Regions from separate parts of the Homo sapiens genome. Here regions 2 and 3 are each linked to region 1. The links come from fine-mapping of genetic effects on gene expression. A gene starts in region 1. Each other region holds a variant in brackets. All regions are shown on one strand. Distances are from middle to middle. Region 1 holds the start of CRYL1 (crystallin lambda 1). Region 2 overlaps CRYL1 (crystallin lambda 1). Region 3 overlaps IFT88 (intraflagellar transport 88).

Evidence for each region.
Region 2: its variant is fine-mapped to the expression of CRYL1 in whole blood (TOPMed, PIP above 0.99).
Region 3: its variant is fine-mapped to the expression of CRYL1 in whole blood (TOPMed, PIP 0.96).

Annotation. Positions count from the first base shown.
Region 1 is chr13:20,519,385-20,527,925 of GRCh38, forward strand. CRYL1 (crystallin lambda 1) reads right to left here and starts at 6,473. Exons shown (of 8, transcript NM_015974.3): 1 at 6,370-6,473. The coding sequence starts at 6,410. RefSeq lists a silencer at 6,149-6,698 and an enhancer at 6,879-6,988.
Region 2 is chr13:20,477,181-20,487,544 of GRCh38, forward strand. The region is part of intron 3 of CRYL1 (crystallin lambda 1); the gene reads right to left. Among named protein-coding and RNA genes, the nearest start is that of CRYL1, 43 kb to the right of the region's middle. The variant G/A (reference allele first, on the strand shown) is at 2,982.
Region 3 is chr13:20,652,758-20,664,261 of GRCh38, forward strand. It overlaps IFT88 (intraflagellar transport 88), which reads left to right. Exons shown (of 26, transcript NM_006531.5): 21 at 1,119-1,171; 22 at 3,608-3,673; 23 at 10,741-10,847. Among named protein-coding and RNA genes, the nearest start is that of IL17D, 45 kb to the right of the region's middle. The variant T/C (reference allele first, on the strand shown) is at 6,642.

The DNA of each region.
Region 1 (8,541 bases):
TGCTCAGGGTAGGTTTAAGAGAAAATGAGCCTCTAGCCCTAACTACCAGTTTCAGGAAATGAAGGGATGGTGGAACATGACAAATGACACTACATGGGTTGGGCGCAGTGGCTCACGCCTGTAATCCCAGCACTTTAGGAGGCTGAAGTAGGTACATGGCTTGCACCCAGGAGTTCAAGACCAGCCTGGGCAACATAGCGAGACCCCATCTTGGGAAGGGAAGGGGAGGGGAGGGGAGGGAAGGGATACATTCAGCAAAACCTAGAATATGGGAAATTTTACAGGGCAAATGACTCAAATTCTTCAGTAGATAAACGGCAAGAAAAATTTTACAAAACCAGAGAGGGATGAACAATCTATAGATTGAAAGAGCTAAGAATCTTATTGACTAAATATAACATGTGGGCCTTATTTAGACCCTAAATCAATCAAGCCAAGTATTTAAAAAATTAATCAGGGAACTCTTGAATATGGAAGAGATATTTAAAGATATTACATGAAGATATTAAGGAATTGTGTTAATGTTTTACACATGATGATGCTATTGTGGTTATATAGTTTTAAAACAGTCCATATCTTTTAGATACTATACATGCTGACATATTTACAGACGAAATGATTCAATGCCTGGCATTTGTTTCAGAACAATCCAGAGAAGGGAGAATAACTGAAACCATATTAGCCATGTGTTAATAATTGTTGAAGTTGAGGGGGTGGGGGAAGGTACTTTAAGGTTCATTGCACTGTTCTCTCAACTTTAACACAGTTTGAAATGTTTCCCTAACACAAAGTTAAGAGAGAGAATATGGATAGGAAGAAAGAAACTGGAGACAATATGGATAAGTTTATTAAGTTTTGAGGAGCAATGTGGCAATTACCAGAGGGAAAAATGGGGTCAAGAGAGGGTGCTTTTCTGTTTTCAGGGAACAACTATATGTTTGCTGGCTGCGGGGTCTGAACCCTGGAGAGGGGAAGCAATCATGAGGGAGGGAGCATGGTGCTTTGGTCTGGGGCTAATGCACCTGCCTCCATGGCTTGGGTCTTACCCCGCTGCTGTTGCTCAGGGAAAGGCAGCCCCCTAATCAAACAGGCAGCAAATCCTTGGAATCGCAATTATCTGACCTGAGGGAGGGTAACCATCGGCCAGGATTCTGGCATCAAATATCAGGTGATTGGACTGGGCCCCACTTCCCTTTCAGTCTTGAGATTGGCCCCTTCATTGCAGAGGACCAACAGCAGACCGCTGACCCCTGGGGACCAGCTGGTGTCTTTTCCCCCACCCCTTCACGCCCACACACTCAGTCATTGCTGATTGGACATGGATTGGACACCTGACCCAAAGCAGCCAATCAACTGGCTTAGGAGCACCCTATAACATCTGCAGCCTGGGATGCACAGAGGTGAAACCACTGGGTTTCCTCTCTTGAAAATTGGACCCGGGCCGGGCACGGTGGCTCACGCCTGTAATCCCAGCACTTTGGGAGGCCGAGGTGGGTGGATAACGAGGTCAGGAGATCGAGACCATCCTGTCTAACACGGTGAAACCCCATCTCTACTAAAATATAAATAATTAGCCAGGCGTGGTGGCAGGGGCCTGTAGTCCCAGCTACTCGGGAGGCTGAGGCAGGAGAATCCCGTGAACCCGGAGGCGGAGGTTGCAGTGAGCGGAGATCACGCCACTGCACTCCAGCCTGGGTGAAAGAGCGAGACTCCGTCTCAAAAAAAAAAAAAAAAAAAAAAGGAAAGAAAGAAAGAAGGAAGAAAGGAAGGAAGGAACGAACGAACGAAAAAAAGAAAGAAAGAAAGGAAATAAATTGGACCCAAAATACAGAAAAAAAATCAGTAAGAGGCACTATACTTGAAAGAGGATAACCTTAGGGTTGGCAGTGATGTGCAAGATAAAGTCACAGGGAAGGAAAGAAAAGTGAGCAAGTACAAGGAGAGGGAATCTACAGAGCAAAGGAAGCTACAGAGAGGCACAGGGACCAGATTGCACGGCCCCAGAGCTAGAAAGTTCCCTGGCTTGGTTTTCCTCAGGTTTCTGTTTCAGGTTTCCCTCAGTATTGTTCCCCAATACTACCTTACATCAGGCCCAAGAATAATTAACTTCCTGTCCTGAGAGCTTGTGACATCTTATTGGCCTTTTTTCCAACCACTATATGCCTGGGGACCTCAAAATGGGAGCCAGCGATAGAGGTAATTCAATGCCCTTCCCACTGTGACTATTGCGACATGTCTTAAAGCTTCTGAATTCATGAATCTTAATGGGTACTACAAAAGGTGAATGCAGATGAACATTTATTCTGTTACACAGTAGCAAAGCAGCAGGGGAGAAAAGTGATATAATTGCTTCAATTCTATCATTAATGTCACTTAATTTTGAATAAATTCACTTTAGATACATTTGAAAGTATCTTTCCAGCTACAGTTACTTATTTACTGGGTAAAAATTGAAGTAAAACTGTTCCTACACTCATGATCTCAGTCTACTATGGAAATTTTGCCAGAAAGAGCTATTAAGTAACTCCTGCGAAGGGCACATTTAGTGTCTAAGCTGACTCAAAAGGCAAGGAGGGCATCCTAGGGTTTGCTGTGTATGTGTACAAAAATTAGCAGGAAAATACCTAGAATAGCACTTCAAAGAAAATTCATGCCTCAGAAAGTTTCTTATAAAAAATGCACAGGCCAGGTGTAGTGGCTCACGCCTGTAATCTCAGCACTTTGGGAGGCTAGGGTGGGCGGATCAGTTGAGGCCAGGAGTTCGAGACCAGCCTGGGCAACATGGAGAAACCCTGTCTCTACTAAAAATACGAAAATTAGCCAGCAATGGTGGTTCGTGCCTGTAGTCCCAACTACTTGGGAGGCTGAGGCAGGAGAATTGCTTGAATCCAGAAGGCAGAGGTTGCAGTGAGCTGAGATGGTGCCACTGCACTTCAGCCTGAGCCTGACAGAGCAAGAATCCGTCTCAAAAAAAAAAAGTACAATCACCCCAAACAAAATTTTGGAATTAAAAAAAATGAAGGAGACTGTAGTTTATAGGATACCTTTCTTTCTTGCCTTTCTAGTTTATGGGATGTTTTTCTTGATATAAAACAACGTCCTACCAAGCCCTTCATAGGGCACATCAGTTAAAAAATAAGCAGTCTCTGTTACAAACGCTCAACTATCTGTCTATTGGGACCACGCATGGTGGATACAAATGGCAACAATACAGTTTCTATCCTTAGGGGAAAGGCCCAGAAGCAGAACTTTTCCTGGAGGAGACAGTCCCTGAGCTTGATCCTGAAAGAGTGTGCCCCCTAAAAAGCAGGACAGGAGAAAGGGCATGCCCTGCACCAGGAACATTTTGTGTTCCTATTCTAAACAAGCTCAAGGGCTACAAGCTGAATCTTGCAGTGTGTATACAAATACAGAACTCATATTTTAGCGATTTAGAAACACAGTGTTTTATAAAGGTAAGGCTAACAAAATGAAAGCCTTAGAACACTACTCCAATGCAAATTTATCTTCATGATACCCATTTCTACTTTTTTTTTTTTTTTTTTTTTTTTGAGATGGAGTCTCACTCTATCCCCCAGCTGGAGTGCAGTGGTGTGATCTTGGCTCACTGAAACCTCCGCCTCCTGAGTTCAAGCGATTCTCCTGACTCAGCCTCCTGAGTAGCTGGGATTACAGGCATGCACCACCACGCCCGGCTAATTTTTGTATTTTTAGTAGAGACGGGATCTCGCCATGTTGGCCAGACTGGTCTCGAACCCCTGACCTCAGGTGATCTGCCCTCCTAGGCCTCCCAAAGTGCTGAGATTACAGGCATGAGCCACCATGCCTGGACTTCTACTCCCATTTTTAAAAGTTATCACTACCAGATTTTCCTGCAGCCCTAGGCCCAAAAGAGTTTCTCTCATCCTCTTTCAAGCCCTCCCCATTCTGAAGGGACTTGCCCTGGATGTTTATAGGACAGCTAAGTGGCCCTAAGGAAGAGTGAACTTTGGAAAAAGATCAGCGGAAAAGAATTAAGTGGGACTGTATTCCTAGCAGGTACTTTCAAGATGAAATCTATAAACTGATAAGGAAAGCTGAAAACACAATATGCTCCTGAAATTGAAATATGTATATTTTGGTCTGTTGAAACCTAAGAATGAAACTGAACCAGGTTTTGGCAAATTAATTGACATTCCCCAAGCCCTATTTGTTAAGTGGGTGTTCCTTGGAATCACCTGTGGGGCCAGGAAAGAAATAGAGGGACGAGAAAGAAGGGTGGTAAAGAGGAAGGGAAGAAACCAGCACTGTCCCAGAGGCAGAGCTGGGTGTGTGCTGAAGTGCTGAGGGTGGGGGAAAGACAAGATTTTCACACCAGAAAACAAAGAAACAAGCAGAGGCCCCAGAGAATTATGTGGTCCTTAAAGTTTGGAAGCCTTTCTCTAATTCCTTATCAACATCCCTCAAGGAATCAGAAGTAAACTGTTAACTGAAGCTCCTCCTCAGTAGACTGAGCCACCCACAGCCAGATAACTGCACAATCAACTAAAACTTTACTTCACATGTATTAGGTGCATGCATAACACTACTCCAAGGCATGATGGACCTATACAAGGCCAAGCAAGGTGGCTCACAACTGTAACCCCAACACTTTGGGAGGCCAAAGCGCTTGCACCCAGGAGTTCAAGACCAACCAGGGCAAGATGGTGAGACCCCATCTCTACCTAAAAATTTTAAAAATCAGCCGGGTATGGTGACACATGCCTGCTGTGGGAGGATGGCTTGAGCCCGGAAGGTGGAGATCCACCATGATAGTGCCACTGCACTCCAGCCTGGGCGACAGAGCGAGACCCTATCCTATTAAAATTGTGTGTGTGTGCGCGTGCGCGCACGCATGCGTGTAAAAACTGTGTGTGTATATATATGTGTGAGTGTATATATATACACACACACATAAACTCTGGTAACTATTAATAAAATGCAAGACAGAGGTAACTACCACCACTGGTACAAAGTGCACTTTTTTTTTTTCAGACGGAGTTTCGCTCTTATTGCCCAGACTGGAGTGCAATGGCACCATCTCGGCTCACCGCAACCTCCGCCTCCCGGGTTCAAAGGATTCTCCTGCCTCAGCCTCCCGAGTAGCTGGGACTACAGGCATGTGCCACTACGCCCGGCTAATTTTGTATTTTTAGTAGAGACGGAGTTTCTCCATATTGGTCAGGCTGGTCTCGAACTCCCGACCTCAGATGATCCGCCTGCCTCGGCCTCCCAACGTGCTGGGATTACAGGGGTGAGCCACCGCGCGCGGCCCAAAGTGCACTTTTTAATATGCCTTCACTATTCAACCACGGGCACTCATGGGCCAGAAAGAACAAAGGCACAGTTAACTCCACTGCTCTGGAGAAAAGAAAGCTGACAACAAGGAATCTGATGCCTTCCTTCAGTGGGAAGGAAACACCCTGACATTGGAAGTGGTCTCCACACCGGGTTGTACACTGATGGGGGGCGGAGTCGGGGGCAGGCCAACACCTCAACAGCAGTCACCAAAAAGGTGCTTTTAACTATCAATAGCAAGTATTAACATGTTTATAGATTGCTGCTAACAGCTGGCCAAAGAAAGGTACATACAAATGCCCCTTTTTAAAAAACAAAAATAGCAAGGATTGTAACCGTAGGGGTGGGGGGCGGGGTGGGGGAAGCACACACTAAAAATCAGTTTGGGCAGAATTTAAGCTGTTAAATGGACACACTTAGCAAACTCTCTGGGCTCCATCGGCCCCCACCTCCCCTCTGGAAACATCGCCTCGCCCAGGAATTAGGACTGCGTGTATGTTCGCCTAACACCTGCTGCGGCCTCCAGCGACATCGTCGCCGACAGGACTGCGCTGGCACCCTCCCTGCTGGGCTAGTCCTGTCTCCGTCACTAAACGCCTGTGACCTTAGGTAAACTGCTTAGTCTCAGTATTCTCATTCGTAAAATGGGGATGAGAACACAGTCGTCGCAGGATCGCAGCCAGAATTCGTTTCATTCAACACGGTGCCTGGCACTTCTATGTGGACCTGCGGGCAGACGCGGCGACATTCAACAGAGTCCAGGAACCGCAGGCCCCGCGGCCTGGGCGGTCAACCTCGGAACCTCCTGCAACGCTGGCTCCCGGGAAGCAGACCCAACTCCGCGGGGCGCCTCCACCTGCCAAGCCCCTCCAGCCGCGCCTCTCCCCGAGCCCGCCAGCGCCGTAGGGGCCGCAGGGCGCAGGGCTTCGGAGGACCGGAGGCCGGGGCGGGGACAGCGACCCGGCGCCCACCCCGAGGGCCCCACGCGAGGGCACCACGTCCCCGGCGTCTCCCCGGGCTCCAGGGGCAGCAGCGCGGCTCGGAGCCCTTTACCTGCCAACGATCACCACGCAGCCGGCCGCGGAGGACGCCATGGTTGGGCCGGGGACGCGGCGCCGCGGGCGCTGGGACCAGGCGCCGGCGGAGCTGCGAGCTCTGGGCTCCGGGGAGGGCGGGTCCCGCGCCCATTGGCTGCGCGCGCGGACCGGGAGGGCGGGGAGGGCCGCTTGGTCCCTGAGTGGGGTGCGCGCCGCGGGCCCGAGACACCGGGAGACACACGGCGCGCCGACCCTCGTGGGCAGGGGCAGGACCAGCGCGGGGGCACGTCGGGGGGTGGAAAGCGGGAAGACCACGCGCTTGTGACTGTCAGCATTCACCGTGAAGTCCGTGTCTATAGGAGGGGACACGGGCAGGCTGGCACGGGCTCTAGCGCTAAAGCACCCTAGAGAAACTGTCAGAGAATGTCCCCTTTGCTAATTCGTCTCTGAAAGACGCCTGCCGCTGCCGCCAACTGCGAACTGGGCGCAGGGACTGCGACAGCAGTGAAAGAGAACACCTGATGCGTTCATCTGCGCTACGGAAGGACACGTCTGAATTCCTCCACGGAGCACACTCTGCACTCGGTTTATGTATCAGAAAAAGGAAATGCCCTCGTGCCCTGACTCCTGGCCTTCTTGGAGCCCGGAACAGACCAAGAGGAAGGGGCATCACACATTGCCTGACAGTGGTGTGCGTCCACACAGCACAAGCTGAACGGGAAATGACACAGTCATTAGACAGAGGAGACAGTACTCAAGCTGGAACCGCAGCCAACACTGAGATGATAAAAGGAAGTCTTCCTTTGTTTCCCCTGAGTCAGGAACGTGGAAAGAGAAATCTCAGGGGAGGGGTTAGGTTTTTTTGTTTTGTTTTGTTTTTTAAAGAACAGTTTCACAAATTATCGATAAATATTTGTAAAGTATTCAACCTCAAGAGAAATGAAAAGTAACACAAGGAAGATAAGTCATCTCTCACTCATCAGATTGGCTAAGTCACATGGATTGATTATATTCCCATATCCGTAATGGAGTGTTTCGGACATGCAACTTACACACAGTAGAAGGCAAGCTTAAATGTTGAGGACTTTTTGGAGGGAATGTTACAGTACATTGTTGAGACAGCCGCTAGCCTGAGCAACCGCGCCTGCTCTGGCTGAGAATACAAGGCTCCAAAGCTTCCATCTTCTGATGGAGCAGTTTCTGTAGTCAGTTACACAGGCAGCCAATATAATAATCAAGGCACCCAGGGAGTGAGCATCCTGTGACTGCTCACTACCGGAGGCTATGGGGGCAGCAGACTGGCTTGTTTGCTGCTCCCTGCAAAGTCATGCCTGAAATCCCAGCGCTTTGGGAAGCTGAGTAGTAAATAATAGCTTGAGGCCAGGAGTTCAAGACCAGCCTGGGCAACAAAGCGAGACCCCTGTCTCTACCAAAAAATTAAAAAACTTATCCAGGCTGGTGCCGCCTGTAGTCTCAGCTACTCAGTAGGCTGAGGCAGGAGGATTGCTTGAAGCCAGGAGTTTGAGACCAGCCTGTGCGAGATAGTGAGAACCCCCCCCCCCGCATCTCTAGTGTGTGTGTATATATATGTGTGTGTGTGTGTGTGTGTGTGTGTGTTTATATATTTATTTATTTATGTGTACATATATTTATAACTTTAATCCTTCTGGTACCAAACAAAAAAAATACAGATTTATTTAAATTAGCCAGGTGTGGTGGTGCATTCCTGTAGTCCCAGCTACTCAGGAGGATCTCTTGAGCCCTGGAGTTCAAGGCTGCAGTGAGCTATGATTTTGCCACTCTACTCCAGCCTGGCTAACAGAACAAGACTTTGTCTCAAAAGAAAGCAAAAGTGGCTGGACGCGGTGGCTCACGCCTGTAATCCCAGCACTTTGGAAGGCCGAGGCGGACGGATCACAAGGTCAGGAGATCGAGACCATCCTGGCTAACACGGTGAAACTCCGTCTCTACTAAAAATTAGCCAGGCGTGGTGGCAGGCGCCTGTAGTCCCAGCTACTCGGGAGGCTGAGGCAGGAGAATGGTGTGAACCCAGGAGGCAGAGCTTGCAGTGAACCAAGATCACGCCACTGCACTCCAGCCTGGGCGACAGAGCGAGACATCATCTCAAAAAAAAAAAGAAAGCAAAAAGTGCTGGGCCCTTGCTCGTTGCAAACACAGGAGTCATCTG
Region 2 (10,364 bases), 41 kb before region 1:
ACCTGGGTGTGGTGACACATGCCTGTAGTCCTAGCTACTCGGGAGACTGAGGTGGGAGGATCGCTTGAGCCCAGGAGTTCAAGACGTCAGTGAGCTATGATCACACAGCTACATTCCAACCTGGGCAGCAGAGCAAGACCTTGACTCTAAAAATCTTAAGTAATTAATTTATATATATATATAATATTTGTATAAACTAGGCACTGTTTTAGGTGTTGGAGAAATAGCAGTAGGTAAAACAATCAAAAATATTCCTGAGGTGTGCAGGCAACAATGATTGGGGTTGGAGAGCGGGCATGGCATGGAATAAATACTAGCACCCACTTTACATGGGCGTCCTGAGGACTGAAGTGGGTCATTTTGCATAAAATGGGCGGCACAGGACCTGGCCCATAGTAAGAGATTGACACACAGTAGGTATATATACAGGCAGGCTCCATGGTGTATTTAATATTACATATTATCATTTAATAATGTTTAAAATTAAATATATAAAAATATTTTTAAAAATATATTAAAAATATATATAATAAATTTTAAAAAATTATTTTTATATTATATATTATTTTGTATACTAGATAATATATAATTGTATAATAGATAATATATAATATTCCATTATGTATTCTATTATATATTATACTAAAATATAATATACTATAGTATATAGATAGTATAATATATATTATATGATAATATATAATACTATACTATAAATACTACCATATGTATTATAGTATATATTACAGTATATTATATATTATCATTTTATAATATATATATTACGTAGTTATATATATATATATGTATATAAAAATATATATGGGCAGGCTCCATGGTGTATTCTGTGTAGCACACAGTATCCAACAGTCTTCATAAATAACCATCTCCCATTGCTAACAGCAGAAAGTAAAATACTCTAGAAAAAATGACTAGAAGCAAATATTATAGTTGCTAAAGTGTTTACTAGTTTCCAAGCATTAAATATGTATGCCATGACCACTTTTGAATGGGCTTATCATGTTTTTAACCTAGTGATAAGATCAAAAAGTATTTTCTTAGCTTATATTTATATTTTCTACTTAACAGACTTTATAAAATTGTTTCTATTAGATATGTGCTTATTTTGACTTTGGGCATTAATTTAACAACCTACAACTTTTAAAGCAGAAGGGACAATTTGGTTTCCATCTAGACTGACTATATCATCAACATGAAGTCAACTTTCTCACTTGCACTATAATATACCACATCATCCTTCCAAAAGAGCTCTGTACAGTCTTTCTTTTATTTGGGTTTGTTTGTTTGTTTTTGAAACAGGGTCTTACTCTATCACCCAGGCTGGAGTACAGTGGCAGAATCTCAGCTTACTGCAACCTCCACCTCCTGGGCTCAAGTGATCCTCCCACCTCAGCCTCCCAAGCAGCTGGGATCACAGGCATGCACCACCATGCCATACTAATTTTTTGTATTTTTGGTAGAGACGGTGTTTCACCATGTTGCTCAGGCTGGTCTCGAACTCCTGAGCTCAAGCAATCTACCCGCTGTGGCCTCCCCATGTTCTGGGATCACAGGCATGAGCCACCACATCCAGCCCTCTTCTCGCTCTGTTGCCAGGCTGGAGTGCAGTGGCGCGATCTTGGCTTGCTGCAACCTCCGCCTCCCAGGTTCAAGTGATTCCCCTGCCTCAGCCTCCCAGGTAGCTGGGACTACAGGCATGCGCCACACCAAGCCCAGCTAATTTTTTTTTTTTTTTGTATTTTAGTAGAGACGGGGTTTCACCATGTTGGCCAGGATGGTCTCAATCTCCTGACCTGATGATCCCCCGACCTCGGCCTCCCCAAGTCTGTAAGGCCTCCCTTTACACCTGTAAAGGATTACAGGTGTGAGCCACCGCGCCTGGCCATCTTTCTTTTAAATAGGGATTTGAGATTCCGTTTAAGTTTAGAGGAAATTTAGGGTTAAAACTATTTTAGGAACCAAATTAAGAATGTGGATGTTGGGATGATGCCACATTGGTTGTTGCAAACTGGGACAATGTTTTCAAGTAACACTTTAATAATCACTTTAAAGATCAGCAGACCCAACACTGGCAAGCTTGAAATCCAACTGTGCTAACACATGACTCCTGAAGGTGTACTGGCAATTTTTACAATGCCACTCAGCAAAATGTTATCAAGAGCTGGAAAGGGGCTTACATCTAGTAATTCCCTATGAATGAACTTGCCCTGAAGAAAGTCACAAAAAGCATGGAAGAATGAGATAGAGGGATGATCAACCAAGTTTAACTTACAATCGCACAGTACTGGAAGTAGCCATAAGATCATTATTTTCTAGGTGATATTTGACTTAGTTGATACATCCACTTGACAGACTCTTACACAGCCACTAGAAAGTGTTAAATGTTGATTAATATAAGTAGAATATGACACTGTATCTATAAAGACACACTATCATTACAATTATAAATATTATATGTGGAAAAAAGGCTGGAGGTAAATATATTAAAATGTCACAAATGGGTATTAGAGGAATTGAATTAGGCATGTCTTCCTCTTTGTAGCATGCAAACTTTGTTAATATTTATAGATAATATTTTTTAAAGGGAGGGTTTCTGTCCTAAAGAACCCTGGAAGGAAAACTGGCTGGCCCAGCCCTGGGGACAGAGCATTGAGTATGTCAGTGTTGAGACAGGGATGCTGGGGCTGCCCCTGCGCTCTCCCACGGCACACAGTTCATCAAGAAGTCATGGACCAAGCTGTTACCAAGAACTACATTTTCCTACACTGCTGCAAGAACACACCAGGTGACCTCCCCATCCACTCCCTAACACCTAAGTCAAAATCGCAACACAGCTAGATCCCAGCCTTCCAGACTTAAAGACATTATGAAGAAGAAACATTTACTTCTTTGAAAAAATGCACGGCCAGGCATGGTGGCTCATGTCTATAATCCCAGCACTTTGGGAGGCCAAGGCAGGC[G/A]GACCTGAGGTGAGTTTGAGACCAGCTTGGCCAGCATGGTGAAACCCTGTCTCTACTAAAAATATAAAAATTATCCGGGTGTAGCAGTGGGCACCTGTAATCCTAGCTACTTGGGAGGCTGAGGCAGGAGAATCACTTGAACCCAGGAGGCAGAGGTTGCAGTAAGCCAAGATCAGTGAGCCAACAATCCAGCCTGGGTGACAAGAATGAAACTCTGTCTCAAAAAAAAAAAAATTACCGTCTTCCATTGGCAGGTGGTTGTGAAGGGGGAAAAGCCAAAATGCCCAAACTGAAAGGTAAAGTAGAAATTCAGGCTAACGCTGACCTTGAGCCAGGCTTCCTGGCAAAGATCAAAGCCTGTTGCCTTCTAACATTCTGCTCCAGCACACATAACTTCATACTCCACCCCACAAGGTAGAGGCCAAAGAGAACAAATCATGGTGGAGTACTTTCCTAATGCTCCTGCAGGTCCCACGATGTCTGAGACACAGGCAGGTCACTGCCTCGTCCATCACTGCAGGGCCTGCCAGCGCAAATCATGCCAATAACCTGCCGTTCGTGGATGCTGCGGGGACCCACAATGCTGGCCATGTTTAGTCCTCACCTGCAGGCACACTGAATGCAATGAGGATGCCCTCCTCTTCTAAGACTTTATTTTACTGTCCTTCTTATGTTTTGACTTAGCATTTTTTCAAGTCCTATTTGGTCACAGAAGAAGATAAATACATAATTACAGATTAAGAGAAAAACTTGCCTGTCTCTTGAATGTATAACATTTTTCATTACTTGCTCATATTATATCTTTGAAGCTATACATACTACAAAAAAAAAGCCAAGCAAATAAATAAAAATACAGCTTCACAGAAATAAGACCTCGTGCCCAGTTCTGTAAGCACACTATTTGAATAAAGCAAGAGCAAGCCATCAGAAAAGTAAGGGCTGTGGCAGGAAGCTAGTAGAACATTAGGACAGAATGTTTTCACACTTCGCAAGTGAAAACTGAAGGCTCGTGCTTCCAGATGATCTCGTGAGTGTGTGAGGTGGGCTTGCCCCAGTCCATCCAGAGTCCCACGCACCTTAGTAATGTCATACCACTCAGCAACAAATTACCAATCAACACAACCACACAAGCCACGTCAAATTCATTTTACTCTGTGAAAGAAACCAAACTCAAAAGGCTGCATCATGTATGATTCCATTTTACATAACATTCTGGAGAAGGCAAAACTATAGGGACAAAGAACAGATCAGTGGTGGGCAAGGCCTGGGGAACGGTGGGAGGAAATTAGCTGCAAAGGGAAGGAGAGGCTCTATGCTCTGAACCCCAGCTGTGACGCTGATTTCATACGTGACTGTACGCATCTGTCAGACACATAGCACTGAACCCTGAAACGAGTGAATTTTCTTGTATGGAAATTATATCTTTGTAAACCTGATTTTACAGTTTTTAAAGAAAAAAACACGTATGGCCATGCGTGGTGGCTCACTCCTGTAATTCCAGCACTTTGGGAGGCCGAAGCGGGCAGATCACCTGAGGTCAGGAGTTCAAGACCAGCCTGGCCAACATGATGAAACCCCGTCTCTACTAAAAATACAAAACTTAGCCCGGCATGGTGGTGGGCGCCTATAATCCCAGCTACTTGGGAGGCTGAGGTAGGAGAATTGCTTTAACCCGGGAAGCAGAGGTTGCAGTGAATCAAGATCGCACCACTGCACTCCAGCCTGGGTGACAAAGGTGCGACTCCATCTCGAAAGGAAAAAGAAAAAACACATACAACAGAAAAAGTGTAACTCCAGTTTCCTCGCACATTCCCGAATATTCTCAGGGCTGGCCATCCCATGTGTCCAATGCTGCCTGAACCCCCCACCCCCACACCCATCTCTACCAAAAGAAGAAATATTCTGAGTCTCAGTGAACCAAGACTGAAAGTCCAACAATCCTTTAAGAAAACAAATAAATTTCCAAAAGAACGCTACTTCCTGTAATTACTGACAGTGTCTGAAGGTCCTTTTCAAAATGATTAGCATTCTCTCCATTTTAAAGATATAGTTGAGATGCAAATTCTGATCATCTACATAGACAATATCCATTTAACTTCTCGATTTCAGCTATTGCAGATTGTTCTGACTTTGTGTAAGGAAACCCCATTTAAACTTCGTAACTCTATAAATCATTCCCATGGCTCCCACCAGCTACTGTGATCTCCGGTTTTAAGTTCCAGAGATTAGATAAGGCCTCGACATAGTGGCTAATGAGCTTTAATGTGCTTTAAAAGTCAAGGCTTGAGACCAGCTTTTCAGAGTAAACTTATTTTTCCAGAACAGTAGGTTTTCTTGCCAGGCAAGATTTGATTTCAAAATTGCACTAAGTTCTAGAAATTCAGGTTTCTTTCTTGCGTGCTCCCGGATTTCAGCAGAGTATTAGGAAACGTCCTGACCCAGGCTCCCCGCCCTCTAGGGTTGGGTAGAAAACAATCCACTGGGGAAAACCACACTCCCATTACTGGGCTTCGCCCCCTGGGGCTGGGCAGATCCGACAGTGGGATTATTTTTAGTTGAAGCATTGTGGCAAGCAGTCTGTGTGTGTGTGTGTGTGCGCGCGTGTGTGTGCGCACGCACACACGCGTCTCCTCAAACTCTGCCTCCTGCTTGTGAACAATTCCCTAAATAGTAATAATTTTCTTTTTATAAGAAAACCACAGCAACATATTTTATAAGAAAACTGTAGCAACATAGATGGCATTGGAGATCATTATATTAAGCGAAGTAAGCCAGGCACAGAAAGGCGAAGATCCCATGTTCTCACTCATGTAGGGGAGCTAAAGCAGTGGGTCTCATGGAGGTAGAGAGTAGAATGGTGGACACCCGCAGCCGGCAGTTACCAGGAAGGGGAAGGAGCGATGAAGAGAAGCTGGTTAATGAGTACAAAATACAGTTCGCTAGAAGGAGCAAGGTCTAGCATTCAATAATACAGTAGGGAAATTAGAGTTAATAATGTTATATATTTCAAAATAGAAGATTTATAGTGTTCCCAACACAATAAAAGATAAACGTGTGAGGTTCTGGATATCCTAATACACCGGGATTTTACCATGACACACTGAACACACAAATCAATCACACATGAATCCCAAATATGTACAATTAAGATACAGCAAGTAATTTTTTATTTATTATTATTTTTTTAAGACGGAGTCTCACTCTGTCGCGCAGGCTGGAGGGCAGTGGTGCGATCTCGGCTCACTGCAAGCTCCGCCTCCTGGGTTCACGCCATCTGGACTGACCATATCATCAACATGAAGTCAGCTTTCTCACTTGGACTGTAACGTACCACATCATCATTCTAAAAGAGCTCTGTACAGTCTTTCTTTTATTTTGGTTTGTCTGTTTGTTTTTGAGACAGGGTCTCACTCTATCACCCAGGCTGGAGTACAGTGGCGGGATCTCAGCTTACTGCAACCTCCACCTCCTGGGCTCAAGTGATCCTCCCACCTCAGCCTCCCAAGCAGCTGGGACCACAGGCATGCACCACCATGCCATGCTAATTTTTTGTATTTTTGGTAGAGACGGGGTTTCACCATGTTGCTCAGGTTGGTCTCGAACTCCTGAGCTCAAGTAATCCACCCGCTGTGGCCTCCCCATGTTCTGGGATCGCAGGCATGAGCCACCACATCCAGCCCTCTTCTCGCTCTGTCGCCAGGCTGGAGTGCAGTGGCGCGATCTTGGCTCACTGCAACCTCCACCTCGCAGGTTCAAGTGATTCCCCTGCCTCAGCCTCCCGGGTAGCTGGGACTACAGGTGCCCACCACCACACCTGGCTAATTTTTTGTATTTTTAGTAGAGACAGCATTTCACCGTGTTAGCCAGGATGGTCTCCATCTCCTGACATCGTGATCTGCCCGCCTTGGCCTCCCAAAGTGCTGGGATTACAGGCGTGAGCCACCGCGCCTGGCCAAAATACAGCAATTAATTTTTTTTAAAAAAAGAAAACTGTCTCCAAGTAGCCTAGATTGATTTTTCTACACTGAGAACCTTCCCTTGTATAAATCAGAAAAAGGAGCTGTGAGAGCTGCTAAGAGGGTGCCACTGGCAAAAAGTCTGTGGACCCTGAGATGAGGCAGCACCACAGGGCGGGTGAGTGGTTGCCAGCAGATGAGTGGTTGCAGCCCGGCAGAGGCTGCGGACTTTGGGAACCTCAGCTTTAATGGAATTCTTAGACGGAAGCTTCTTTCAGGTTTGCCATCAAATGGTGACTATCACAATTTTTTAAGTCTAAAAATTATATGTCTCACTTGAGGTCAGGAGTTCGAGACCAGCCTGGCCAACATAGTGAAACCCTGTTTCTACTAAAAATACAAAAATCAGCTGGGTGTAGTGGCAGATGCATGTAATCCCAGCTAATTGGGAGGCTGAGGCACGATAATCGCTTGAACCCAGGAGGCAGAGGTTGCAGTGAGCCAAGATTGTGCCACTTCTCTCTGATACAGCCCCGAGCACATCGTACAGCAGGAAATGTTCTAAGTTTTAAATAAAAACCATGATGCAAAATTCTATTTACAGTATAATCTCAAATGTATTAGAAAGAGAGAAAATAAACAGGAGAAGTGGAAACATATAAATACACAAAAATCTTCAGTATTTTTGGAATAATGAACCTAAACAGGATTGTCCTAAACTTTCTTTACAACACAGAGATGTTTAATTAGGTAAGATACATGTTTAACATTACATTGTGTTAGAAACACTAATGTACTTTAACAAACATGTGGGGCAGCATTAGGTAGGTTTCACTCTGGGGGTTTCATTTACTTGTTTGTTTGGTAAACCTGAGACACTAATATGCACTAGGTTTTGTTGTTGTTGTTGTTGTTGTTGAGACAAGGTCTCACTCTGTCGCCCAGGCTGGAGTGCAGTGGCTCCATCTCGGCTCACTGCAACCTTTACCTCCTGGGTTCAAGTGATTCTCATGCCTCAGCCTCTCAAGTAGCTGGAATTACAGGCATACACCACCACGCCTGGCTAATGTTTTGTATTTTTAGTAGAGATGGGGTTTCACCATGTTGCCCAAGCTGGTCTTGAACTACTGAGCTCAGGCAGTCTGCCCACATTGGCCTCCCAAAGTGCTGGGATTACAGGTGTGGACCACCACGCCCAGCCTATGCACTAGTTTTAAAATTCAGAGGATTAAATTTGCTTTACATCATATAAAGAAATGTGTAGGCTGGGCGCAATGGTTCATGCCTGTAATCCCAGGACTTTGGGAGGTGGAGGCAGGTGGATCACTTGAGGTCAGGAGTTAGAGAGCAGCCGGGCCAACATGGTGAAACCCCATCTCTATTAAAAAATGTACACAAAAAATTAGCCATGTGTGGTGGCACATGCCTGTAATCCCAGCTACTCAGGAGGCTGAGGCATGAGAATCCCTTGAGCCCAGGAGGTGGAGGTTGCAGGGAGCTGAGATCACGCCACTGCACTCCAGCCTGGACAACAGAGCCAGACTCCATCTCAAAGAAAAAAGAAAGATAGAAAAGAAAAGAAAAGAAAAGAAATGTGTAAACATGCCCAAGAAAATCAGTTAACTGGCAAAAATGAACTGCTGATTCTTTTTTCTTACTCATCTTTCCTTCTGATTCATTTCATTCTCCTACTAAATACCTTCCTTGCAGGATTCTAATCAGGACTTAGATTGAAATCCAAACCCTTTAGTTCTTTATTTTTTTTATAATTATTTTTTCTTCAGGTCTCATAATATTTTGTTTGTTTGTTTGTTTTTTGAGATGGAGTCTTACTCCAGTTGCCCAGGCTGGAGTGCAGTGGCCTGATCTCGGCCCACTGCAACCTCCACCTCCCAGACTCAGGAAATCCTCCCACCTCAGCCTCCCAAGTAGTTGGGACCACAGGCACATGCCACCACACCCGGCTAAGTTTTTGTATTTTCAGTAGAGATGAGGTCTCACCATATTGGCCAGGCTGGTCTTGAACTCCTGAGCTCGAGCAATCCGCCACCCTCAGCCTCCCAAGAGTGCTGGGATTACAGGCGTGAGCCACCACACCCAGCCTTCATCTTTATTTCTTTAAAGAAACACATAAATGGTGCTTCTCTTCGTGTACTCCTCTAAGCACTGTGTATTACTCAATTCACCTAAGTAATTCTTCAGGTTGGCATTCGTAGCATGGCGACTTGGTTTCCACCTTGGACCAGCCTTTCCTACCTTTCCAATGGGTCTGTAACGTGGCCTTAGAAACATCCTCAAAGGGACTTCTCATCTCATTCATCTCTTCCTCCCACACAATCCTCCCACCCCCACCCCAAAATCCACTTGTCAAAAGTCAAGACAAGCTCTAATCCTACCTGCATTAAACCTTCCCGAAGCCTCCCGGTCAGAACTATTCCTACCCACTCCTTTCTCTGGTACTGGAGGTACAACAATTTCTGAAGAATATAAACTCTCATAGGAATTAAACCTACTAGTTTACATCATCTTTCTCTAGTTTCCTCTCCTCATCCGGCTTGGCTCTGTGTTCTACATAATAGATATGGCTCAACATGTCATGCCTTGTAAATACACTCATTTAATCTATAAAATAAAGATAGACTGTAGTTAAAGAGCAGTTTTCACTAGTGCCAACCATGTACAGAACGCCATATACTGCCCCATGTCATTCTTTATTACCAAAATTGTTATAAATGGCCACATTATAAAATAATTACCATTTCCTGAGCATTTTCTGTGTGCCAAGTACTATGTAAGTGCTTTACATGCCTTCTAAATTCACATATTCCCCCCAAATTACTCTTTAACAGAAAAACTTGCCTTATTACCCAAGTCTATTATAATGTTCTCATATTATGGAGGGTTCACCACTTTATAAAAAACAATATACTCTTTGAGGGAGACACATTAACCAGAACTAATTCAGTTAGGGTAGTTTTGGATGTTTATAGAAATCATATGATAAACTATCAAAAAAATGGGATGGGGAGACAAAGAAATTTAACATGGATAGATGAATTATTCCTAGGGGATGACTTTACAATTGTTACTGCTAGGAAATTTATAAAGTAGCTATAGAAAGATTCTTTAAAAGAAAAAAAAAAGCACAGCAAGTTGCCATGCTATGGAATCACAAGTGTATTATTACAAAAGGAAAAAACATCTAAATGTTTGAGAATTAGTCTTTGAGGCTGGGGATAAAATTTGCAGTGCCAGCATTGTAGATGGGTTCAAAAAGCTCTGCATAGCAAACATCTCCAAGAGGCAAAGGTAACATGGTCTGGGAACTCTGTTCAGAGAGACTCAAAAAGTGATTGTAATGAAGACAAACATGCTGAAGTTGGAGATATCAGCCCAGAGTTTGAACAAAAGCATTCTGTGAAATGTG
Region 3 (11,504 bases), 130 kb after region 1:
CATGGTAAATGCAACACTAAGTGATTCTAGGGTGTTAGGAGAGCATATGGAACAGTCTATCCATGTGGCATTAGCAGAGAGTAAAGAGGTTGGAATGCGCCTCTAAGCAGACATGGTGGTGTATACAAAAGCCAGAAGTCTAGCAAATGCAGGGGATACAGGGAAGTCCGTGCTCCTGTGTGAATTTGCTGTAACATGAAATGTTAAGCAAGGCACGGTGGGAGATGAGTTGGAGAAGCAGAAAAGATCTAGAAAGTAGATAAACTGGGTTAGAATCTTGGATTTAGCATGTAGGTGGAAGGGAGGTAACAGGTTTTAAGGAGGGAAGTAATGTGGTTAGATGTGTATTTTATTTAGATCACAGTGGGTGGCCGTGTAGGCAATGGATTTGAAGTTAAGTAACTTGCCCCAGTAGCAGGGCTGTGATTTAAAGCCAGATCTATCTGATTCCAGTAGGTAGGTTTGCCATCAAATCGAGTAGGAACTGAGGTTTTCTTTGAAGCCATCAGGCTTCTACTTAGAAAGGAGATTCAAAAAAATGAGGCGAGCATAAATTGTTCCCTAGGTGTTTCTTCCTTCATATCTTGCCATCCTGAGATATTTTTAATAGAAGTATTTAGAAATCCTGGTTTTGGTTATTTATTTTAGAAAAGAATTTGATTTCTTTTTAATGGACAAAAAGGGATTAGTAGAATTTTTTTTACTCTCTGTTTAGTCGAAGCCTGATTCTTCAAACACTAGATCAAAAATCGCTTCTCAGGTACTAAATTTGCAAGCAAGTGTAAGTATTATGATAAAAGATTATAGCAAAAGTAATGATCCTTTAAGTTTAAAGTAGAATGCAGTGGGTTTTAACCAAACAGGTTAAGTGGTTCTCATATGAATATCTAAATAAAGGTATGAACTAGAGGAACTTTGAAGAACACTTAAATTTATATGTCCTGATATAAATATGACAAGCAATACTGAGGGAAATTATATATCTGCTGTTCTCAATAATAAAAATTATCTAACAAAAGGTCAAAAAGTAATTGTAAAATAGTAGATACATAGCTTTATAAAACTGAGCATCACAGATTTTTTTATCTCTAATTTCATCTCATTTATTTATTTTATAGGCCTACACAAGTGAAATGGCAGCTGATGGTAGCTAGTTGTTTCAGAAGAAGTGGTAAATGCTTTAGTTTTATTCATTTTATAGATATTTTGCTTCTTTCCTTTTAGGTAATTATGCATATAAATGTGATCCAGTTGCATATCTGTTTATTAAAATACTAACTTTTTATAACTGTACATAATTCAAAGCATTGTATGAAAAACACAATAATTACTACATACAAAAAAGTTATGCTTACAAAATGGGTATTAATCATGTATTCCAATACTTGTCTTAAAAACAGATTTGTTATTTCTCAAAGTTAACATGTAATCATTTTCACAAGTTAGCCACAGAAAAAAATAGGCATACTGTATACATTATATTTCCATTTTCTACTCAGTTAATTCTAAATGTCCTGTGTGCTCGGCCAAATTTATGACACTTGAGAAGCCTGAGAAAAGCTCACACTGAGACAAGTGTGACTATATGTTTTTTATACCAAAGATCACTGGCTATCTTGGTTTGTGTTTTTGTTACTGCTTTTATTAAATTCTTGCTGATGACACATATCCTGAAGGATAGAGATGCTATTAGTTTTAGGCTAACTGTGAAGTGAATAATATGCATAAAATATCAAAGATCAAGCTGGGAGAGAAATGTGAACAAATTTATAATCCCTCTTGTAGAGCATAAAAATGACCCAGGAAAAGAAAGTATTCAATCTAAGGGAAGAGGGAAGCACAAGTTTTGAAAGTGTTGGCAGTTTGTTCTCACCCAGTTTCGGGGGAGGTTTCCTTCTTTATCTCTGTGAGCACCTTCAGAATGGCATCAGAAATGTTTTAATACATAACTCAGTGTATTCCTCAAATCATTTTAGGGGGGATCTGTAATTCCTATTGAATGTACAACATGACTATACTATATACATTCAATTTATATCAACATGAGTTCTCAATTGCCTATGTTCATTTCAACGTCAGTCATATAGAAAGTATATATATACATATGAACTATTCTAAATGATTTAAAGACATAGCCTGCTTCAGTTATGGAAGTACAGGATAGAAGCAGCAGCTAGCATTGAGAACTGGCTTTGGGTCAGATGCTTCCTGTCTCTATTTCATCCCTCTTGTAGAGAGAGGCCCAGAGAGATTTATAACTCATTTGCTAAGATTTTAGGAAAGATCTTTGACCCAAATTCGTTTTTCCTATTTTGGCTGCTACATGAAGCTAAATTATTTTGTTATAAAATAAATTGCTTTCTATAAACTTTCTAATGTTTAAAAAACTGTAAAGGCCGGACACAGTGGCTCACGCCTGTAATTCCAGCACTTTGGGAGGCTGAGGCTGGCAGATCACGAGGTCAAGAGATCGAGACCATCCTGGCCAACATGGTGAAACCCCATCTCTACTAATAATACAAAAATTAGCTGGGCTTGGTGGTGCACGCCTGTAGTCCCATCTACTCGGGAGGCTGAGGCAGGAGAATCACTTGAAGCCAGGAGGCGAAGGTTGGAGGTTGCAGTGAGCCGAGATTGCGCCACTGCACTCACTCCAGCCTGGTGACAGAACAAGACTCCATCTCAAAAAAAAAAAAACAAAAAAAACCACACATTTATTTATTTATTTATCCATTCATTCATTCATTCATTTTGAGACAGAGTTTTACTCTGTCACCCAGGCTGGCCTGCAGTGGCACTAATCACAGCTCACTGCAACTTCCACCTCCTGGGTTCAAGCGATTCTCCTGTATCAGCCTCCCCAGTAGCTGGGTTTATAGGTGTGTGCCACCATGGCCAGTTAATTTTTGTATTTTTAGTAGAGAAGGGGTTTCACCATGTTGCCCAGGCTGGTCTCAAACTCCTGGCCTCAAGTGGTCCACCCACCTCAGCCTCCCAAAATGCTGGGATTAAAGGAGTGAGCCACCACGCCCAGCCCAAAAAAACTATAAAAACATCTTAAATATTTTCCAACTAAATGAATGACATTGACATTACTGTAAGTATATAACTTAGATTATTTTTAAATTTGTCAGTTCATCTGGAATAATCTTTTTTAGAAAATTGAATGGATCTTAATTTTTGCCACTAAAATATTTAAAGTGAACCAGGCTCAGCAATGTGCGTCTATAGTCCCAGCTACTCTGGAGGCTAAGACACGAGGATTGTTTCAGCTCAGGAGTTTATAGGCTGTAGTACTTAATGGTTGTGCCTGTGAATAGCCACTGTACTCCAGCCTGGGCAACAGAGTGAGACCTCGTCTCTTTAAAAAAAAAAAAAAGGAAGAAGCTAAATTTCAGCTATCACCCATTTACTTCTGCTTTCAGCCTTATTTCAAATTTATTTTATCTATACATTTTCTTCTAAAAGTTATATTAAGTGGTATATAAAACATGAAACCTTTCTATTAAACCATTAAATAGCCAGTATATCAGTTAAAATTAATATTTTTCTGAATCCTGTTAGTTTCTATAATTTGCTAATATATTTTTCTCTTGTTTGTTTATAGGTAACTACCAAAAAGCATTAGATACTTACAAAGATACTCACAGAAAATTTCCAGAAAATGTCGAATGTAAGTGGCATTACATAATGTAACTTTGAAGTGATAAGTTCTCATATTTTATGTTCTAATATATAATTACCTTTGCTACAGTAATTGTATACGTAAATACCAACCTATAATTTGTGATACATATTTTAAATATTTTTATAGCATCAGAAAATTTGACTATGCAAGTACATATTTTTATGTAACTAATTGTTGATGGATTTAAATATACCACAGAATTTTCTTTAATACTAAAAAAATACATATTTCAGAGTTCTATAGAATTTTAAGAAAGCATTTTGGCCTATGGTTGATTTTTCAAAGTTTGTAAACCTGTGGTATTTTATAGGAAAGACATTTTTAACTGTCCATTTTAGTAAACAACTTCTAAAGGTTGAGAAAATAATTTTAGGGTTTATAAAAACTGAACATTAATAATCTTGCTGATACAATAGCAAATAATTTTTTTTTAGACAGAGTCTTGCTCTGTTGCCCAGGCTAGAGTGCAGTGGTGTGATCTCAGCTCACCACAACCTCCACCTCCTGAGTTCAAGTGATTCTCCTGCCTCAGCCTCCCTAGTAGCTGGGACTCTAGGCGCGCACCACCGTGCCTGGCTAATTTTTGTATTTTTAGTAGAGACGGGTTTTACTATGTTGGCCAGGCTGTTCTCAAACTCCTGACGTTGTGATCCGCCTACCTTGGCTTCCCAAAGTGCTGGGATTACAGGCGTGAGCCACTGCTCCTGGCGGCAAATAATTTTTAATGTTACTTCAATTTTAAAACATTATGTTAATATGCTGCGTACTCAGTTGTAAAGTTATCTTTGTAGAAGATATTCATTTATTTACTATCTTGTTGCACAGTGGATTGATGCAACTTACAGTAATAATGTGAAGTATTATGGCAGTAACAACAAAATCAAGAAAAACATAAAGTAAGCACAGTCATATGCCACATGTTCTCACTAAACTATAAATTTGTCCCTGAATAGCCTTGCAGCCAAAGGAAAGAGAAAAGTTACAAGCAGTTGTACAATTTTTACTGTTTTATGTGGAAATATAAAGCAATTTATTGGGAAGAAGAAGTATCTCTTCAACTCTTAATTCACTTCTGTTTAGACATTGAGAGATACAGTAGATAAAATCATTGAAAGACACAGTAGATACTTTCTTAAATAACATCCCTATAGCAAATAAAATAATATGCTGGAAACGACCATGTTAAAATTTGTTCTTCAAGGCTGGGCACAGTGGCTCACGCCTGTAATCCCAGCACTTTGGGAGGCTGAGGTGGGCAGATCACCTGAGGTCAGGAGTTGAAGACCAGCCTGGCCAATAGAGCGAGATTCTGTCTCAAAATAAATAAATAAATAAATAAATAAATAAATAAATTTGTTCTTCAATGACAATGAACACAAAAGAATGCATTACAATTTAGTAAAAACAAATCTTTTCTGAGCCAAGTTTTCTAATGGCCAAGGATTAGATGTACTACGTGTTTCTTCATTAATATATTTCTCCATTTGGCTTTCTAAAAAAGCTCAACAGCAGTTAGCTCAGTTATGGTCTTTGGTAGGAGTGTAGGAGCAGGGTGTTCTCCAATGCTGATTAGAAGTAGACTCATTAACTTAACAGCAGTAGTTTTCACAAATACCAGTCAGGAAATAGGCTACATGGGAATTAATTCTAGAATTTTTTTTTTTTTTTGAGATGGAGTTTTCTTCTTGTCTCCTAGGCTGGAGTGCGGTGGCGCCATCTTGGCTCACTGCAACCTCTGCCTCCTGGGTTGAAGAGATTCTCCTGCTTCAGTGTCCCTAGTAGTTGGGATTACAGGCACACGCCACCATGCCCAACTAATTTTTGTTTTTAGTAGAGACGGGGGCTCTACTAAAAACAAAATCACTCTTCAAGCGATTCTCTTGCTTCAGCCTCCCAAATTGCTAGGATTGCAGGTGTGAGCCACCATGCCCGGCCTAGAACTTTTTTAAAGTACAAATTTCTAGCCCTACCTAGAAAGATTTTCATTTAGATTTACAGTGGATGCAGGCGTCTGTTTTTTCCTATTTCTGTTTAAAGAACTTTCTATGTGATTCTTAATCTCAGTCACATTAGAGAACTAGTGCTTTAGAGATTAAATGAGAGATAGCAGTAATAACTTTTCTTGAAAGTGGAACAACCCAAAAGTCTGCTAGGCAAGAGTTTCTCGGCCTTGGCACCTTTGACATTTGGGATTGTGCAATTCCACATTGTGGGAGGCCATCCAGGGGATTATGGAATGTTTGGTAAAATCCCTGGCCTCTGTCCAATAGATTAGCTAGTAGCTCTCTCACCCCTAGATATGAAAACCAGAAATGTCTCTAGACATTGCCAGTGTCCCTTGGGGGTGCAAAATTGATGCCAGTTGAGAACTCTTGAAGTAACCATAGCACCTCTGCACCGGACCGGAAAAGCGAATGTCTTCAAGGAAGGCCAGGTTTTTTTCTTTAGAGTATGAGTCACTCTAAGAATCAAATGAATGATTGTCTATGCCATAGAGGGTGTCTAAGATAACTTTGGCCTATTTAATTTTCAAAACAAATGTAATCAATAGTCTACCTTAACTGTAGTTGTAGAAAAAACATTTACACCCATGGAATGTGCTGTTTTAAGAAGACTAGTTTTCTGGATAAAACTAGCAGGATAATTTAGTTTTAAAACATATTCTTCACCAAAAATTGACCTGCTTTACAGAGTTACAGATGATGTACTAAATTTCAGAGAACATCCACCAAAAATAATGATTTTTACTTTACATTAAGTGTTTCTGGCTGTGCGTGATGGCTCATGTCTGTAATCTCCACACTTTGGGACACCAAGGCCGGAGGATTGCTTGAGCCCAGGAATTCAAGAACAGCCTGGGAAACATGGCAAGACCTCAACTCTTCTAAATATGAAAAAAATATCAGGGCATGGTGGTGTGCATCTATAGTTCCACCTGCTCGGGAGGCTGAGA[T/C]GGAAGGATCGCTTGAACCCAGGAGTTCCAAACTGCAGTGAGCTGTGATTGTGCCAGTGCACTCCAGCCTGGGCATCTCTAAATCTCTTAAAAAAAAAAAATTCCTAAGCCAATCTTTATTTGCAGAAAGTACAAATTACCTTCTTATTCTGAATTATTAATATAAATGTATATGCAAATGCAATTTTTATAGTAATGTGTGACATTTTAAGTTACTTTATACTATTAACTTTTACAATACTTTATGGTCTTTTTTTTTTTTTGAGACACAGTCTCACTCTGTCACCCAGGCTAGAGTGCAGTGGTGCGATCTCGGCTCACTGCAACCTCTGCTGTCCAGGTTCAAGTGATTCTCCTGCCTCAGCCTCCCAAGTAGCTGGGATTACAGGTGCCTGCCACCATGCCCAGCTAATTTTTGTAGTTTTAGTAGGGATGGGGTTTCACCATCTTGGCCAGGCTGGTCTTGAACTCCTGACCTCATGATCTGCCCGCCTCAGCCTCCCAAAGTGCTGGGATTACAGGCGTGAGCCACCGCGCCTGGTCTACTTTAATGGTCTTAAATTGCTGGTATATTTACAAATTATTGTGGAGTGGAGTGACTATTCTGTTCCAGACGTTGTTCTAGCACTGTGGATGTAGCAGAAAACAAAAGAGACCAAAATCCTTGATGTCGTGGAACTTGTTTCTAGTGGGAAAAGACAATAAACAAATAATGTCAGTAGTTATAAGTGCTATGAAGGCAAAACAGGTAAGGAGCTAGAGAATGTGGGAGGGGCTGGTATTTGAGACAGGGTTGTCATGGAACGGCTTTCTGTTAAATTAGCATTTGAGCAGAGACCTGAAAGAATAGACAGAAGCAAGCCATGACGATATGGAGGTCAATGTGGTTGAAGCACAGTGGACGATGTGATGGGGAGAGAGAGGCAGAGTGGGTGGGCCAGGACCTGTGGATCCTCACAGGCCTTAGGTCAGGGCTTCAAATTATATTTCTGGGGAGATGATGAGCCATTGGAGGATTTTGTGTGGAAGAATAATACAATTTGACATATGTTTTCAAAAGGTTCTAAAGTGTGATTAACTCAAGCTTCTGTACCTGAGGTCCAAATCAAAAGATTGTTTTGGCTGCTGTATGGAGAATAAGCTGGAGTGGGCAGTACCGAAATGCAAAATCACAGTATTCACTTGGACTAATGATTTAGCAGTGGAGGTGGGCAGGATGGATTCTGAATATGTATCAAAGGTATCAGTGCCAGCACTTGCTGGCCATTTAGATGTGAGACTTGAGGGAGAGAGTGTCAAGGGTAATTGCACAAATATAGCTCTGGGAGCTGGAAGGATGCCATCCACTGAGATGTAGGAAACTGGGGAAGAAGCAGCTTTTGGAGGGAAAAATCAAAACCTTTTTTTAGATATGTTGTGTTTGAGCTACCTTTTCGATGTCCAAGAGGATGTATTAAATAGGCACTTAGGGAGAAGTTGGGGGCCATCTTCATATAAATTTATTTCAGTATATTTAGCACATATTTTTGTGCTCTGTTATTATATATATTATCAGTAATACTTTTGAAAAAATGGAGTGTTCACTAGCTTTAAGACTTTCCTGTTTCTTTATCCATTCATTTGTTCCCCAGAACTTTTACCAACTATTTTTTATGTGCTGGGGATACAACAGATATATCAACTTGATTTCTGCCTCCTAGGACTCACAAATAGTTAACTGATATAGGTTAATAAATGAGATAACTGAAAAATGTGCAAAGTGCTGTCAAAATACAGAGGATCTCTTAACTCTGCCCAAACTAGGGGACGATTGACATAATTAGGTTTTACAGAGGAAGTAACATTTGAAGTGGCCTTGAAGGGTACGGAGGGTTTTACCAGGAAGGAAAGGCAGGAACAGGCACTGCAGGTAGACAGTAGCATTAGTAAGGGCAGAGTTAGAGGGATGCAGAGTCTATTTCAAAAGGTAGTCTATTGTGGAAAATGTAGCAGATTGAAGATGTGTTTTCTTATACTACAAACCAAAAAAAGACAGTTTATAAAAACTATAAATGCGGCTGGGTGCGGTGGCACACGCCTGTAATCCCAGCACTTTGGGAGGCCAAGACGGGCGAATCACGAGCCAGGAGTTCAAGACCAGCCTGACCAACATGAGGAAACCCTTGTCTCTACTAAAAATACAAAAAATTAGCTGGGCATAGTGGTGGGCACCTGTGATCCCAGCTACTCAGGAGGCTGAGGCAGGAGAATTGCTTGAACCCAGGAGGCAGAGGTTGCAGTGAGCTGATATTGCGCCAGTGCACTCCAGCCCAGGTGACAGAGCAAGACTCCATCTTAAAAAAAAAAAAAAATTATAAATGTACAAGAACAAAGAGATAATTAAATTTTAGGAATGTTTTCTGCTTAGCAGATTAGAAGAACTGCAGAGGTATGTAGGTAGTGGAGACGTCAGCAGAAGCAAAACAATTCTTGACATAGAACCCCAGGAAATCCCGGGAATTGGAGGCATCAGAAAATGGGAGGGGTGCTGGCTGCTTCTGAAAACAGGAGGGTTGGCTGCAAGTCTGGATGTGATACAGCTAGATTTTCAAATGCCCTACCTAAATCGTACAGCAGGAATTTAGGCAGAATGCAATGATGTTGTTGGTGGATGATGTCGGGAGATGTATTTGAAAGATATTTAATAGAGCCAAAATGATTAATTCTGGGACGAAGCTTCCAGAAGAAGGATCAGGCAGCAATATTTGCTGTTCTGCAGCCTCTGCTGGTGATACCCAGGCAAACAGGTTCTGGAGTAGACCTCCAGCAAACTCTAACAGACCTGCAGCTGAGGGGCTTGTCTGTTAGAAGGAAGACTAAAAAACAGAAAGGAATAGCATCAACATCAACAAAAAGGATACCCACAAAAAAAAAAGGCCTACCGACCAAAAAAAGTCCAGGACCAGACAGATTCACAGCCAAATTCTACCAGAGGTGCAAAGAGGAGCTGGTACCATTCCTTCTGAAACTATTCCAGTCAATAGAAAAAGAGGGAATACTCCCTAACTCATTTTATGAGGCCAGCATCATCCTGATACCAAAGCCACACAGAGACACAACAAAAAAAGAGAATTTTAGACCAATATCCCTGATGAACATCTATGTCTCTGGAAGGATGAGTAATGAGTAACTTTTATTTTTTGTTTTTTACCTTTGTATGTTTTACAAATTCTCTATAATGACCTGCATTGCAGTTGTATTGAAGGAAAATATTATTTTTAAATGAGATAATAAAAATATTTTAAAGTAATTTAGACCACAAATGGCAAAGGCCATTCTTACAAATGTAAAGACAAAATTATTGTGTTTTTTAGCATCTATTGCATGTTTTTAAAATGTTGCTAATTTTAGAAACACAAGCTTGAATGAAAAAGCAAATTCCAGGAGACTGTATACAGAACAATACCATTTTTATAAGACCCAATAGCAAGCAGAACTAAACAATATGTCATCTGGTGATATGTATAAAGTGATCGAAGATTTTGTTGTTGTTATTGTATACAAGACATGATTAACACAAAACTTTTTATTGTGATTATTTTGTATATATTTGATGTCAACTGTAAGACCAGCCACTGTAAAATACATCTTTTTTATCTTCCTAGTGCTTTGCACAGTGTGAATAATACTTAATTTAAAAATGAATTTACTGACAGTAATAACATTAGTAATGATTATTATATGTATAAACTGTCTACACTTTTTAGCCTAGTCTCTCTTATAGCTCTTTATATGTATTTATGAAACTGCTATAGAACATTAACAAATGTTACATTTGCCTTCTAAGTTCTCTGCCAGCAGTGTCCTGTGCCATGTTCCTTCTAGGTTCTGGCAGCGTGAGGACAGGACACATGGAGAGAGACCCTTTAAACCTCCTTCCAAGGAAGTCAGTTCTCCCTGGTCCAGAGATTGCAAAGTGTAATTATTTTTCAGGAGAAAAATACTATTTGTAAGCATCATTCCTACCTGTATCCCAAAAGACTGAGTTCACTGATTTATTGAGCTTTTAACAAATATACTGTGCCTATATTCTTTCCTAAATGTATATTTTACAATTTAGGTCTGCGTTTCTTAGTTCGTCTCTGCACAGATCTTGGATTAAAAGATGCTCAAGAATATGCCAGAAAACTGAAGAGGTTGGAAAAAATGAAAGAAATAAGGGAACAGGTATCTCATATGGGCCCCAAACTGCAGTCTGTTAATTTTTAGAATGTCAGCCTTCTATAGCTCAAATGTGTGATGTTAGGAGCTTCTATAAGAAAACAGAGTTGAAATTTTTTTCTGCTCTGACATAATAGGAGGAATAACTAAAACTCTAGTTTGAGGATAAAATTCTGGCAAAAGTGGATTCCCAGGGAGAGGAAGTGCAATAGATTTCATATTATCTTAGTGGATAGCTACTAACAGACAAATAATTATAATTTTCCACAACATGAAATAGCTTACAGGTTAATTTGAAGACATAATTTTAATTGGAAAGTCCTGTGGACCATGAGAGACAGTTACTTCTCTGCAACAATGGAATCTGTGAGTGTGTGCTTTAACAAGTTTTCTAGGTGATTTTTATTGTCGCCAAAGTTTGAGAAGCACTCAGGCTTTATGCTCCTTGAAGGGTTACCTTGATCAAATACCAACTCAGGATATAGAAGCTAATTTAAGAGGTGAAAAAGTAGACATAAAATATATCAGGCAGTGGATTTTCTTAAATTGTTTTAAAATGGAAAAAGATTTGTATAAACTTAAGAGAGGAACATAAACCAATTCAGGTTTATGTGGGTCAGGGTAATTTCTCTTGCTGATTCCCTAACTCCTGTTTTAAAATGT